Linked DNA regions of Homo sapiens. The protein of the gene in region 1 interacts with the protein of each later gene in a pairwise test. Each region holds a gene or a part of one and is shown on either strand. Other genes may lie near its edges.

Region 1 (4,510 bases):
GGTATGATTCCTAGCAGAACCCCCCAGTCCCCCTTAGGTCTGGAGTCTCCTAAAGCTGGTCTAAGCCTTTATTTTGGTGAGCAGGAGTGAGTGAGCTATCTGTAATGATTCTAGGACTGCAAGCTAGGGTACCTGGAAGTCTTCAGTTGAGACAGAGACCTGGGTTCAAATTCCAACTCTTGTTGTTAAAGCTGTCCTCTTGGGGATGTGAGGTACAGCTGTCACATGCATGACTGTGGGAGCATCTGCCTTTAGACTAATGGCTCTGAACCTCTCCCTTTCTGAGCCCTAAGATCAAGAAGTCTTTCCTCAGGTTTTGTGTCTGAGTCCACTACAGCATCTGTGACTGGGCCCCAGAGCAAGACTGCCCCCTCCAAGGGAGCCTAGAGCTTTGTTAGGGAAATTGAGGGGTGAGGGGACCACAATGAAGCCTATTGTCTACTAGAAGAAACAAAAGGCTCCCAGTCTCTGGGGAGCCCTAGCCCATGCCCACCCGCTAATGCCCAGCACACAGGGAGGAGCCGGGGCCACTGGAGACAGGAGGTTTTATTGATGCTGATGGGGGTAGGAAAGGTCCCCAGAAGCATGGGGGCTGAGTCAGTCAGCAAATGCGTAAGGCCTAGGCACAGAGGAGCAGGTTAGGGCACATTCACCTTCTCAGGATTCTGTGGCTCCCTCATTGGAGAAGGGAGAGAGCATCTTGGGGGCGCAATTCCAAGAGCAGCGAGGGCAGAGGTTAGAGATGGCTGAGAGCCCCTAACCTGAGGCGGCACCACAATAGGCAGCAACAACTGTGTGGAAAGCTGGATGAACTGGTCAGTAGCGGAAAATGGGAGGGGGCACTGGGTTGGCCTCTTGGGGAGGGGTCCAACCTTGGCTTGGATGAGCTCATGAGAATACCCAGTGTTCCCAAGCAGAGGGGGGCAGAGCCCAAAGCCCCTTTCTCTGCAGGCCTCCTTAAGGAGAAAAAGGCACTCAGAGAAAAAGGCATTCAGGGAACCCCCTGGAAAGGGGTGCCAGAATTAGTCCTTAAGGCACAGCTGAGGCGGACAAGGCACCAAGGCACAACTGGTGGGGGGAGGGCAGGGGCAGCCTCCAAGCCAAGTGCCAGGGTCACAAGAGGATGCAGGACCGCCCACGCTTGATCGGCGTGGGGTTGAGCACAGCCCGGACAGCCTCGGCGAACACTTCCTTGACACCATCCTGTTGCAGGGCTGAGCATTCGAGGTAGCGCACAGCGTGGATCTGCTTGGCCAGTGCCTGGCCCTGCTGCGGTGTGATGGGCGCCTGGCCCTGCTCCTTGAGGCGCCGTAGGGTGTCAGGCTGGGCTCTCAGGTCCTTCTTGGTGCCCACCAGCAGGATGGGCACATCAGGGCAGTGGTGGCACACCTCTGGATGCCACTTGTGCCGCACGTTCTCATAGGACGGCGGACTGGCAATGGAGAAACAGATGACGAAAACGTTGGTCTGAGGGTAGGAGAGTGTACGGAGGCGGTCATACTCCTCCTGGCCCGCAGTGTCCCACAGGTTCAGGTTCACTGTGCGCCCGTCAACTGCGCTCTGCGCGCTGTAATTGTCGAACACGGTGGGGATGTACTCTTTGGGGAAAGCGTTAGTTGTGTAGCAGATGAGCAGGCACGTCTTGCCCACAGCCCCATCACCCACCACCACGCACTTGATGCTCTGCATCGTGGGTGCAGTTGCTGTAGTGGAGGCAGTGCCTCCTCTCTCTTCTGGACCCCTCTGGCTGCAGTGACCTGTGGACAGATGAAAGGGGACATTCTTGGTTAGGGAGGCCTCTGCCTATTGGGAAGAAAAGATGGGGGCACACAAAGGGAAACCGGCTCCTGTTCCCTTAACCTGACACTATCCCAAAGTCCCATCAAGACGGTCATCAGAAAGACACACAATGAAAGGCCCTGAGGCCAAGCAAAGAGGCAGTATAATGTGGTAGAAAGCACATAAACTCTGGCGCCAGACAAACTAAGGTCAAATCCTGATTTTGCTATTTCCTAGCTGTGTAACCCTGAAAAAATTGCTTAACCTCTGTATGCCTAAGTTTTCTTACCAGTAAAATGAGGATAAAATAATATCTACCTCACTGGGTCATTGTGAGCATTATATAATACATGTAAAGCATTTAAAACAGTGCCTCGTCCACAAGTATTAGCTATTTTTTTTTTTTTTTTTTTGAGACAGAGTCTCACTCTGTCACCCAGGCTGGAGTGCAGTGGCGTCATCTCGGCTTACTGCAAGCTCCGCCTCCTGGGTTCACGCCATTCTGCCTCAGCCTCTCGAGTAGCTGGGACTACAGGCACCCACCACCACGCCCGGCTAATTTTTTGTATTTTTAGTAGAGATGGGGTTTCACCGTGTTGGCCAGGATGGTCTCGATCTCCTGACCTCGTGATCCGCCCGCCTTGGCCTCCTAAAGTGCTGGGATTACAGGCGTGAGCCACTGCGCCTGGCCAGTATTAGCTATTTTTTTTTTCCAGGCTATACAGACACAAAAGGAGAGTGCACAAATTTAGGGATCTACTAGATCCTCTACTAAATATGGACCCTTTCCACCAGGAGACTGGAAAGTGTTTTGGCACAGGACAGCTGTCCCAGGTCACTCTGTGATGCAGCCATAAGTAGAACCTCTCTCAACTCAGGGCCCACCCTGCCCTCTCCAAACCTGGTATCTTGGCTACTGAGTACAAACCCAAAGGCACAGTTAAGAAACCTGCTGAGTAAGGGGCTCAATTCTTTAGAGAGCTGCCCTATCCCAATCCAGGGTATTCTGGCAATGGGGAAATTTTTTTTTTTTTTTTTTTTTGAGATGGAGTCTCACTCTGTCGTCCAGGCTGGAGTGCAGTGGCGTGATCTCAGCTCACTGCAACCTCCGCCTCCTGGGTTCAAGTGTCTCCTGCCTCAGCCTCCCGAGTGGCTGGGACTACAGGCAGGTGCCACTGCATCCGGCTAATTTTTATATTTTTAGTAGAGATGGAGTTTCGCCGTGTTAGCCATGCTGGTCTCAAGCTCCTGACCTCAGGTGATCTACCTGCCTCAGCCTTCCAAAGTGCTGGGATTACAGGCGTGAACCACCACACCTGGCCACCCCATCATTCTTGTAAGTACTGAAAACCCTATCTGGCCATGTACACTCAGATTGCCAATTCAATGCAGGGGAATACTGGAGATTCAGTTGGACCTGGGATTTGGACTGGGGTCTGGGTATGTTATGATGAATGAGGTAGAGGCTGAGGCTCCCAGACATTAGTATCTTCTCTCAAGGCCCTTGGTGGGGTGGAGCAAATTTTTTTCTTTTTTGAGACGGAGTCTTGCTCTGTCGCCCAGGCTGGAGTGTAGTGGCGCAATCTTGACTCACTGCAACCTCCACCTCCCGGGTTCAAGCGATTCTCCTGCCTCACCCTCCCGAGTGGCTGGGATTACAGGCGCATGCCACCACGTCCAGCTAATTTTTGTATTTTTAGTAGAGACGGGGTTTCACCATGTTAGTCAGGCTAGTCTTGAACTCCTGACCTTGTGATCTGCCCGCCTTGGCCTTCCAAAAAGTGCTGGGATTACAGGCATGAGCCACCATGCCCGGCCTGGAGCAAATCTTTCAGGCCCAACTAGGAAGGATGAAGTCAAGAGTAAGACAAAAACTTGACTTTCCCCTCAATCTTCTGTCCATTTCCTGAGATCCTGGCATGTGCCTCTGAAAGATTTTAGAGACTTCCAGACTCTTGGATAGAAAATACCATCATTAAGAACATAGATGCTAGAGTAAGACTCGCAGGTATTCTAATCACAGCTCCACCAACTAGTTATATGTGATCTTGGCAATATATTTGTTCCCTGAGCCTCAATTTTCTCATCTGTAAAATGGGGATAATCTTGCCTATTGCATTACAATTGCTCAGAATATGAAATGAGGCCAGGCACGGTGACTCATGCCTGTAATCTTAGCACTTTGGGAGAATGAGGCAGGTAGATCGCTTGAGCCCAGGAGTTTGAGACTAGCCTGGGCAACATGGCAAAACCCTGACTCTACAAAAAATGAAAAAATTACCAGGGTGTGGTGGTACACACCTGTAGTCCCAGCTACTCGGGAGGCTGAGGTGGGAGCATCACTTGATCCCAGGGTGGTCAAGGCTGCAGTGGGCTATGATCACACCACTGCACTCCAGCCTGTGCGACAGAGCAAGACCCTGTCTCAAAAAAAAAAAAATAAAAAGTAAGAGTTAATAATGTATAGAAGATGTCCAGCATGAGGTATGGCACATAGCAAGTGCCCAATAAATGGACTGCTGTATTTATGAGTGGGGTAAGTATGAGGAGTCCCAGCTCCAGCCAACATCTGGTTACCTCTGCAGGTCACAGGGCCTCGGGGAGATGAACTGCTTTTCTGAGTTCTGGAACACAGCTTCCAGAAACCCTGTGATTATTTACACTGCTATGGCAAGGATCCTTCTCTCATCAGCTACTTCCTCTTGGCCATGGGGGACTCTTGGTGGTCAAT
Region 2 (7,175 bases), on another chromosome or scaffold:
GCATCTCAAGGTATCCAGGCTCCGAAGATTAGGGGCTAAAGACACACTAAACATGTAGGGGTTTGGTATGAGTTTGCTTCCTTTTCGTTTTGCTTTTTCAAGAACTCAAGAGGTAAGTGTTTGGGCACCAGGCTGACCAGGCCTAGGAGTTGGGAAGGAAAGCTGTCATTGGCATCAGCTCTGTCCTGTACCTCAGAGACTGCGTTTCCCTGCCTGGGGCAGGTGGATGACGTTTTGACAAAGCTGTTTGGACTCAAGGACACTTTACTATGGCCTCATAAAACAAACACTAAACCAACCATTCGACTGCGGTTCCGCAGCCATTGAAAATGACCGAGGGATGGGCCAGCAGACATCCTCCGCCAGCTCACTCCTACCCCAGCCCTGAGCCTCCCTCCCGGCCTCTGTCCACCCTCCAGCCTTGCCCTTGACCTCCCTTGCCTTCCCCTGGCTCTGACCTCTCCCGTCCTCTCTCATCCCTGACCAAGGTGGCCCCCCGAGTATGGGTGGAGGGTGGAGTGGGATGGACAGAGGATGTCTGCGGGGCACATTCCTGAGACCCAGTAGCTCCCATCTGCAGGCAGCGGGGCTGCCCTCTCCCCGCCCCAAGGCAGGCCACGCTCATTTCTCTTTCCCCTTGTACTCGTAGCCTCCAGAGGTGAAGTCCCCAGTGGAGCCTATGGCTACTCTTACATGCCCAGCGGGGCCTATGTCTATCCCCCGCCAGTCGCCAATGGAATGTACCCCTGCCCTCCTGGCTACCCCTATCCACCGCCCCCACCTGGTGAGTGTGTCCTTTGCTGCCCCCACTCCCCTCATGAGCCCACCTACCCAGGCTCCCCCCAGGCCAGGGAGACTTTATTCCTTGAGCTGCTTCAGGACCAACGAAGGAGCTGGAGAGGCCCCCCTCACCCGGGAGGGGGCCGCAGCCGGGTGCTCACCATGTCCTTGTTACTCTCTCACCGAGCAGAGTTCTATCCAGGACCCCCCATGATGGACGGGGCCATGGGATACGTGCAGCCCCCACCACCGCCCTACCCTGGGCCCATGGAACCTCCGGTCAGCGGCCCCGATGTCCCCTCCACTCCTGCAGGTGAGGGCCCTTGGGTGCTGGCAGCCCTTCGGGACCAGCCCTCTCCTCCCCGATGTCGCACAGAGAGCCTCAGAATGGCCAGAGACTGCTGAGAGCCGCAGATGATGGATGACCCCTGGACTACCCCAGGGGCCCAGCAGGGCTGTGGCCTGGTGGAGCGGAGCTAGATTCTGGCCCCACCCCCATCCCTTAGCTATCCATGTGCCCTGGGCGGGGAAGGTCACCCTGTGTGCCTCTCGATCCTCTCATCTACACTCAGCTGGTCGGTCACAGTGGCACCTGGGGCATTGGCTCAAGGATTAGATGAGGTGAGACATGCGATGGGCCTGGAAAGGACCGTGCCAGCGCGTGGCATGTGCTCAGGAAACCTCACCTGCTGCTCTCATTGGTGGAACTGGACCCCCAGCACCAGCTGCCCCGAGCCATGGGGGCCCGGGGTCTCTTAGCTGAGCTCAGGGGGAGGAGAACTTGTCACCGACACCAGGTGTGTTTGCTCTCACAGCCGAAGCCAAGGCCGCAGAAGCAGCCGCCAGCGCCTATTACAACCCAGGCAATCCTCACAACGTCTACATGCCCACGGTGAGAGGGCTTGGCAGTGCCGGTGCAGCCCCACAGCCGCAGATGCTGGGAGCCGCAGGGGGATGACCGCACCATGTTTTAAACCTTCTAATGCAAGTCTCTCCTTTCTCCCTTCTTTAGAGCCAGCCGCCGCCACCTCCCTACTACCCACCGGAAGATAAGAAGACCCAGTAGGCCCTCCTGCCTCCCTGCCTCCCACCCTCATCTCTCTACCCTACCCCTCCCATCGGGGCTGTGCTGGGGCTTGGGGAGGGGAGGGGGCGCCTTGTTCTCCCTCCAGGTCTGATCATAAACAATTACCAGGAACTAGCATTGTGGGACATTAGGGCCCCCGGCCTCGGGAGAGGTGCCGCCCAGCTTCCCATGCCAGCCCGGAGCCCACAGTGCTGCCCAGCGTACCTCCCTCACCGTCTGGGGCTCTTCTGGGAGCACGGAGCATCCCCTGTTCCTGTTTCACTCTCAGCTTCTCCCCTCGAAGGGACTCTCTGGCCACCTCCTCCACCGCAGTCCAGCTCCCTCAGTCTGGCACCCACTGCTACACTCAGCCTCATGAGCCACTTCAGACCAGCCAGGTGTCTTCCCGGGCCCTGCCAGACCCTGCTCACATTCCCTCTGCTGGTCTGTGCTGGTCTCAGAAGGCCACCGCGCCCGCATTCCACTCAGCCAGGGTCCAGCTGCAGCCCCCGCCACCCTTCCTTCCCTTCCCTGTCCTGGGTCATGTTGTTGCCACCCTGTGTGACTTTTGAAGCTGTAAAATGAGCTTCCAGGGCTTGGGTGGCGTCGGGGCAGGGCCGCCGAGGCTGGGAGGAAGCCCTTCTGCCTTTTGCTGGTGTTTCTGGAATTTGCTTTCCCTCACCTCTCACTTCCTTCTAGAAGGAGCTTCCTGACTGGAACCAGAGAATGCATGTCTGTCCACTTGGTGGCTGCTGGGTGGGGCCGGGAACAAGGGCCCCTGACCCTGTGTGCTGGCCGGGACCTGCCACCAGCCCCCCAGCCTGCTTCTTCCCCTTAAGCTTTGTGCCCCTGGATGCGCTAACATTCACTCTTGTTTGTCCCTGGACTGGCCATGAAGTGAGGAGATGGTTATTTAAAGAGAATTCCCTATTTATTTGACAAAAAATCCAGTTAATATATTAATGTGAAATAAACCCTGTTTGCACCTCGATTTGTTTGCTGAAAATGTGAAATAGTAAAAATGAAATAACTGGACCCTTTCTGGCTCTGCGTGTGGTGACCCGGGGGTCTCTTCCGGAAGGAGAGCCGTCTGGCCGCTGAGGGCCCTGGAGACTTCTGGGACGGTTCCCTCCCATGGGAGGATCCCCATTCTCACGGCCCAGCCAGCCTGTCTGGTCCCCAAGACAGCTCTGGCCTCTGGAGCTGGTTCTTAACGGTTGTCGCTCAGCAGCTGTGTCCCTCCCCCACTGAGTCCCCAGGGCCTGGCTGGGACAGAGGTGGATGTGGCCCAGAGTTGGCCTTGAAGGGAGGAGTTGGGGCTGCCACCTTGTCCCCTGCTGGCTCCTCGAGGAATGGCAGCCCTGGCCTAAGTCCTGGTTGCTGGAGGGAGGAGGCCGAGTCAGCCCTGGAGCACGTCAGGACCTGTGACAGGGACACTGAGGTAGCCAAGCCGGCTTGCCACCACCCACGTCACGTGCCCTGCTGTGAACTTGAAGGGACAGGAGGGTGGGAAATGGCCAAAGGCCGTGACCAGGCCCACACGCCCGCAAGTCCCCCAGCCCAGCACTGGGCACAGGGTGGGCAGGCCACAGAGCTCTAGGAAAGCCCCATGCTGAGGCGCATTTTCCTGTCCCCCGGGAGCCAAGTCTGTCCTCAGGAGAGATCGGGCAGCAGCCCCTCTGCCTCCTCCTCCTGGCCAGCCTGGCCCAGAGCTCTCTGGGACTTGGCTAAGCCCCCTTCAAGGGTGTCTGAAGGGAGCACTGTCCTGACTGCCAAGGTGGGGGCAGGGGCACAGGGCTGTCCCTGCCCAGCACAGCTTGGCCCCGTCATCTCCAAGGAATGTCACCTGTGGGGCCAGGCAGGCTGAGCAACTGGCTGTCCTCCAGGGAGACGCCTCTTGGGAGCCCCCACCCTGGGCGCCACCACACCCCACCCCACCCCGCCCCGCCCCACGTCTGGACGCACTCGAGGAAGTGGGGTGAGAACCCCCCCGGGCCCAGGTCAGCTTCTCTCAGGGTTCAGCCCAGCCTGGGCACAGCACATGGATGGGGCAGGATGCTGCCCGCCTGTTCTGGGCCCCCCCGCCCCCTGCTGAGAGCGTTGTCCCCTTCCCAGGGCCTCTGTAGGAGGGTGGGGCGGGGCCAGGCCTGCCCACGGGGTCCACCTTCTGCTCCAGCCAGAGGAGGGTCCTGTAGGGATCCCAGCTGGGGAAGGTGCAGGGGGCCTGGGAGACTGCCTCTCCGAAGCGGTGAAACCCTCACCCTTCCGTCCCTCCCAGCCACCCTCCCTAAAACTTCCCCTGACAGAGGGTGGCAGCCCCAGGCTCTTTGCATAATCCTGTGGCTTCGCTGTCTTCACCCAGCACCAGCGGACAGGGAAGGGCAGAGAAGGCCACCATGGCGACACTCCTCTCCCATCCGCAGCAGCGCCCTCCCTTCTTGCGCCAGGCCATCAAGATAAGGCGCCGCAGAGTCAGAGATCTACAGGATCCCCCGCCCCAAATGGCCCCGGAGGTAGGAGTGACCTCACTGGGGAGAGAGCTGGCCTTGGGGAGCACTGTGGTCTCGGGTACGGGTGCCCTGCTGTCTGGCCCCACCTCTCGAAGGCTGGGACTGGGGACCAGCGACCCTCCCCTGCCTACTCCACCCTGGGGAGAGCCCCCTGGGCCAGCAGAGCAGGGGCTGCCAGATGGACTCTGGGCCACTGTGGGCCTCAGGCCCTGTGGTCTGAGGCTCTCAGAACCCCTCCCTCCCGGTTGGCCTGACCCCATCCCCTACTCCTCCAGCTTCAGAAGAGCCGACTCCATTAGGTGGGGGTGTCCCTGCTGTGGGGTGAGCTGTTCGGGGAGCAGCAGACCCCCAGGCCGACGTGGCACCCCCCTCACCTCCGCTGCCGAGCCTCACTTCCGCTGCTGGGTGAGGAGCAGCCGCCACTGATAAGCAGAGCTGTTTCCTCTGGGGAAGGGAGGGAGGTGGGGTGCGGGTGCGGAGGGCTCGCGCTGCTGGGCACCCATGGACCTCAGCCACGGCGGGCCCAGGGACGGACCTCCAGGAGGCCTGCTGGGGGAACAGGTGCGGGGCATCACTGGGGCTGGAGGCCGGGGTGCTGGGGCCCCCATACCCTTGGCCTGGATCAGGCCTCAGAGGAGCCATTCCTGTCCATCTGAGCCTGCTCTGGGCCTCCCGGGACACTGCCTTTCCACCTTGCTCTGCAGATCCAGCCTCCATCCCACCACTTCTCCCCCGAGCAGGTAAGAGTCAGAGTGCTGGGGTGCAGAGAGGTGGGGAGGGCGGCTGTGTGTCCTCCTGCCGGCCGACGCTGATGGCAGCAAGCAACTTGCGGTGGGGAGGGGACTCCTGGGTCTCAACTCCCTCCGCTGCACAAGCCGCCCTTGTCCTGCCCATGGCGAGAGGTGTTGGTGCCAGGGGTGGCTGGTGGGGTCCCCAAGGTGACCCCGTGTGTCTTAGCGGGCCCTGCTCTACGAGGACGCACTCTACACTGTCTTGCACCGCCTGGGTCATCCTGAGCCCAACCATGTGACGGAGGCCTCTGAGCTGCTGCGATACCTGCAGGAGGTGAGCCCGGCTCCCACCCCACCCCCCTTCCTGCAGCTGCCCTGTCTGGTGCCCCCAGCCACCCACCCGCCTGCCTCCCCACCAGGCCTTCCACGTGGAGCCCGAGGAGCACCAGCAGACACTGCAGCGGGTCAGGGAGCTTGAGGTAACCTGGGGCCAGGGTCCCCCTGGGCAAGGAGGGGCCTGGGAAGCCCAGCCCCCTCAGGGACTCAGGCCATCCCTCCTGTCCCTCCAGAAGCCAATATTTTGTCTGAAGGCAACAGTGAAACAGGCCAAGGGCATTCTGGGCAAAGATGTCAGTGGTGAGCATGGGGTGGGGTCCCCAAGGGGCTTCTTCCTGGCTCCTTCCTCTCCCATCACAGCCTGGCCCAGGACTCTTGGCGGGAGCACCCACTTCCAAGAAGCCCTGTAGCGCTGGCCCCCCATGCTGCTGGTCCCCTTCCCTCTCCCCCGGAGGAGGCTCAGCCCCGGGCGGGGGTGATGAGGGCCTCTCCCAGGGACCCAGCCGACTCCCTGGCTGCCTCGTCTTCCCCACTCCTCCACAGGGTTCAGCGACCCCTACTGCCTGCTGGGCATTGAGCAGGGGGTAGGTGTGCCAGGGGGCAGCCCCGGGTCCCGGCATCGGCAGAAGGCTGTGGTGAGGCACACCATCCCCGAGGAGGAGACCCACCGCACGCAGGTCATCACCCAGACACTCAACCCCGTCTGGGACGAGACCTTCATCCTGTACGTGGCCGTGCTCCAGCCCCCACTCTATCCAGGTCTTTCCTGGGTAGCAGGGTCTGCCCCAGACAATGAGATGAGTAGGTCGTCCTGGCTCAGGGGAGGGGGTTTGGCCCTGGGCAAAGACTAGAGGAGAAGCCCATCTCCAGGCACGTTAGGTGGACAGTAGGTCAGATGGGACAGAACAAGATCAATGCCACACGTGCTGATGGGGCAAGGAGGGTCAGGCCCTTGTGGGTGAGTCTGGGGGTGCCTGAAGCTGTACCTGAAAGGAGGCAGGGATGGGTGCAGTGGTTCCCACCTGTAATCCCAGCACTTTGGGAGGCCAGGAGACTGAGACCAGCCTGGCCAACATGGCAAAACCCCATCTCTACTAAAAATACAAAAAAGGCCGGGCGTGGTGGCTCACGCCTATAATCCCAGCATTTTGGGAGGCTGAGGAGGGCAGATCATGAGGTCAGGAGATTGAGACCATCCTGGCTAACACGGTGAAACCCCGTCTCTACTAAAATACAAAAAATTAGCCGGGCGTGGTGGCAGGCGCCTGTAGTCCCAGCTACTCGGAAGGCTGAGGCAGGGGAATCGCTTGAACCTGGGAGGCGGAGGTTGCAGTGAGCCGAGATAGCACCACTGCACTCCAGCCTGGTGACAGAGCGACACTCTGTCTCAAAAAAAAAAAAAAAAATTAGTGGGGGCCAGGCGCAGGGACTCATGCCTGTAATCCCAGCACTTTTGGGAGGCCGAGGCAGGTGGATCACCTGAGGTCAGGAGTTTGAGACCAGCCTGGCCAACACAATGAAGGCCCACCTCTCCTAAAAGTACAAAAATTAGCCGGGCGTGGAGGTGCATGCCTGTAATCCCAGCTACTTAAGAGGCTGAGGCAGGAGAATCACTTGAACCCGGGAGGCGGAGGTTGCAGTGAGCCGAGATCACGCCACTGCACTCCAGCCTGGGTGACAGAGTGAGACTCTGTCTCAAAAAAAAAAAAAAAAAGGCTGGGCGCGGTGGCTCACGCTTGTAATCCCAGCACT

What was found. Proteins that work in one complex are often made in the same cells at the same time.
Region 2: the proteins of RHOG (region 1) and UNC13D interact in binary tests that used the Homo sapiens proteins (3 or more experiments, as listed by UniProt).

Annotation. Positions count from the first base shown.
Region 1 is NC_000011.10:3,826,450-3,830,959, forward strand, and holds the end of RHOG (rho-related GTP-binding protein RhoG), read right to left. Parts: intron 1,758-4,510; 5' UTR 1,690-1,757; coding exon 1,114-1,689; 3' UTR 529-1,113; downstream 1-528.
Region 2 is NC_000017.11:75,841,405-75,848,579, reverse strand, and holds the start of UNC13D (protein unc-13 homolog D), read left to right. Parts: upstream 1-4,175; 5' UTR 4,176-4,242; coding exon 4,243-4,359; intron 4,360-5,060; coding exon 5,061-5,096; intron 5,097-5,313; coding exon 5,314-5,421; intron 5,422-5,506; coding exon 5,507-5,566; intron 5,567-5,656; coding exon 5,657-5,723; intron 5,724-5,966; coding exon 5,967-6,147; intron 6,148-7,175. Other genes in the region: WBP2 (WW domain-binding protein 2), read left to right, coding at 1-10, 650-784, 971-1,093, 1,596-1,672, 1,793-1,846. UniProt on the Homo sapiens protein: Plays a role in cytotoxic granule exocytosis in lymphocytes. Required for both granule maturation and granule docking and priming at the immunologic synapse.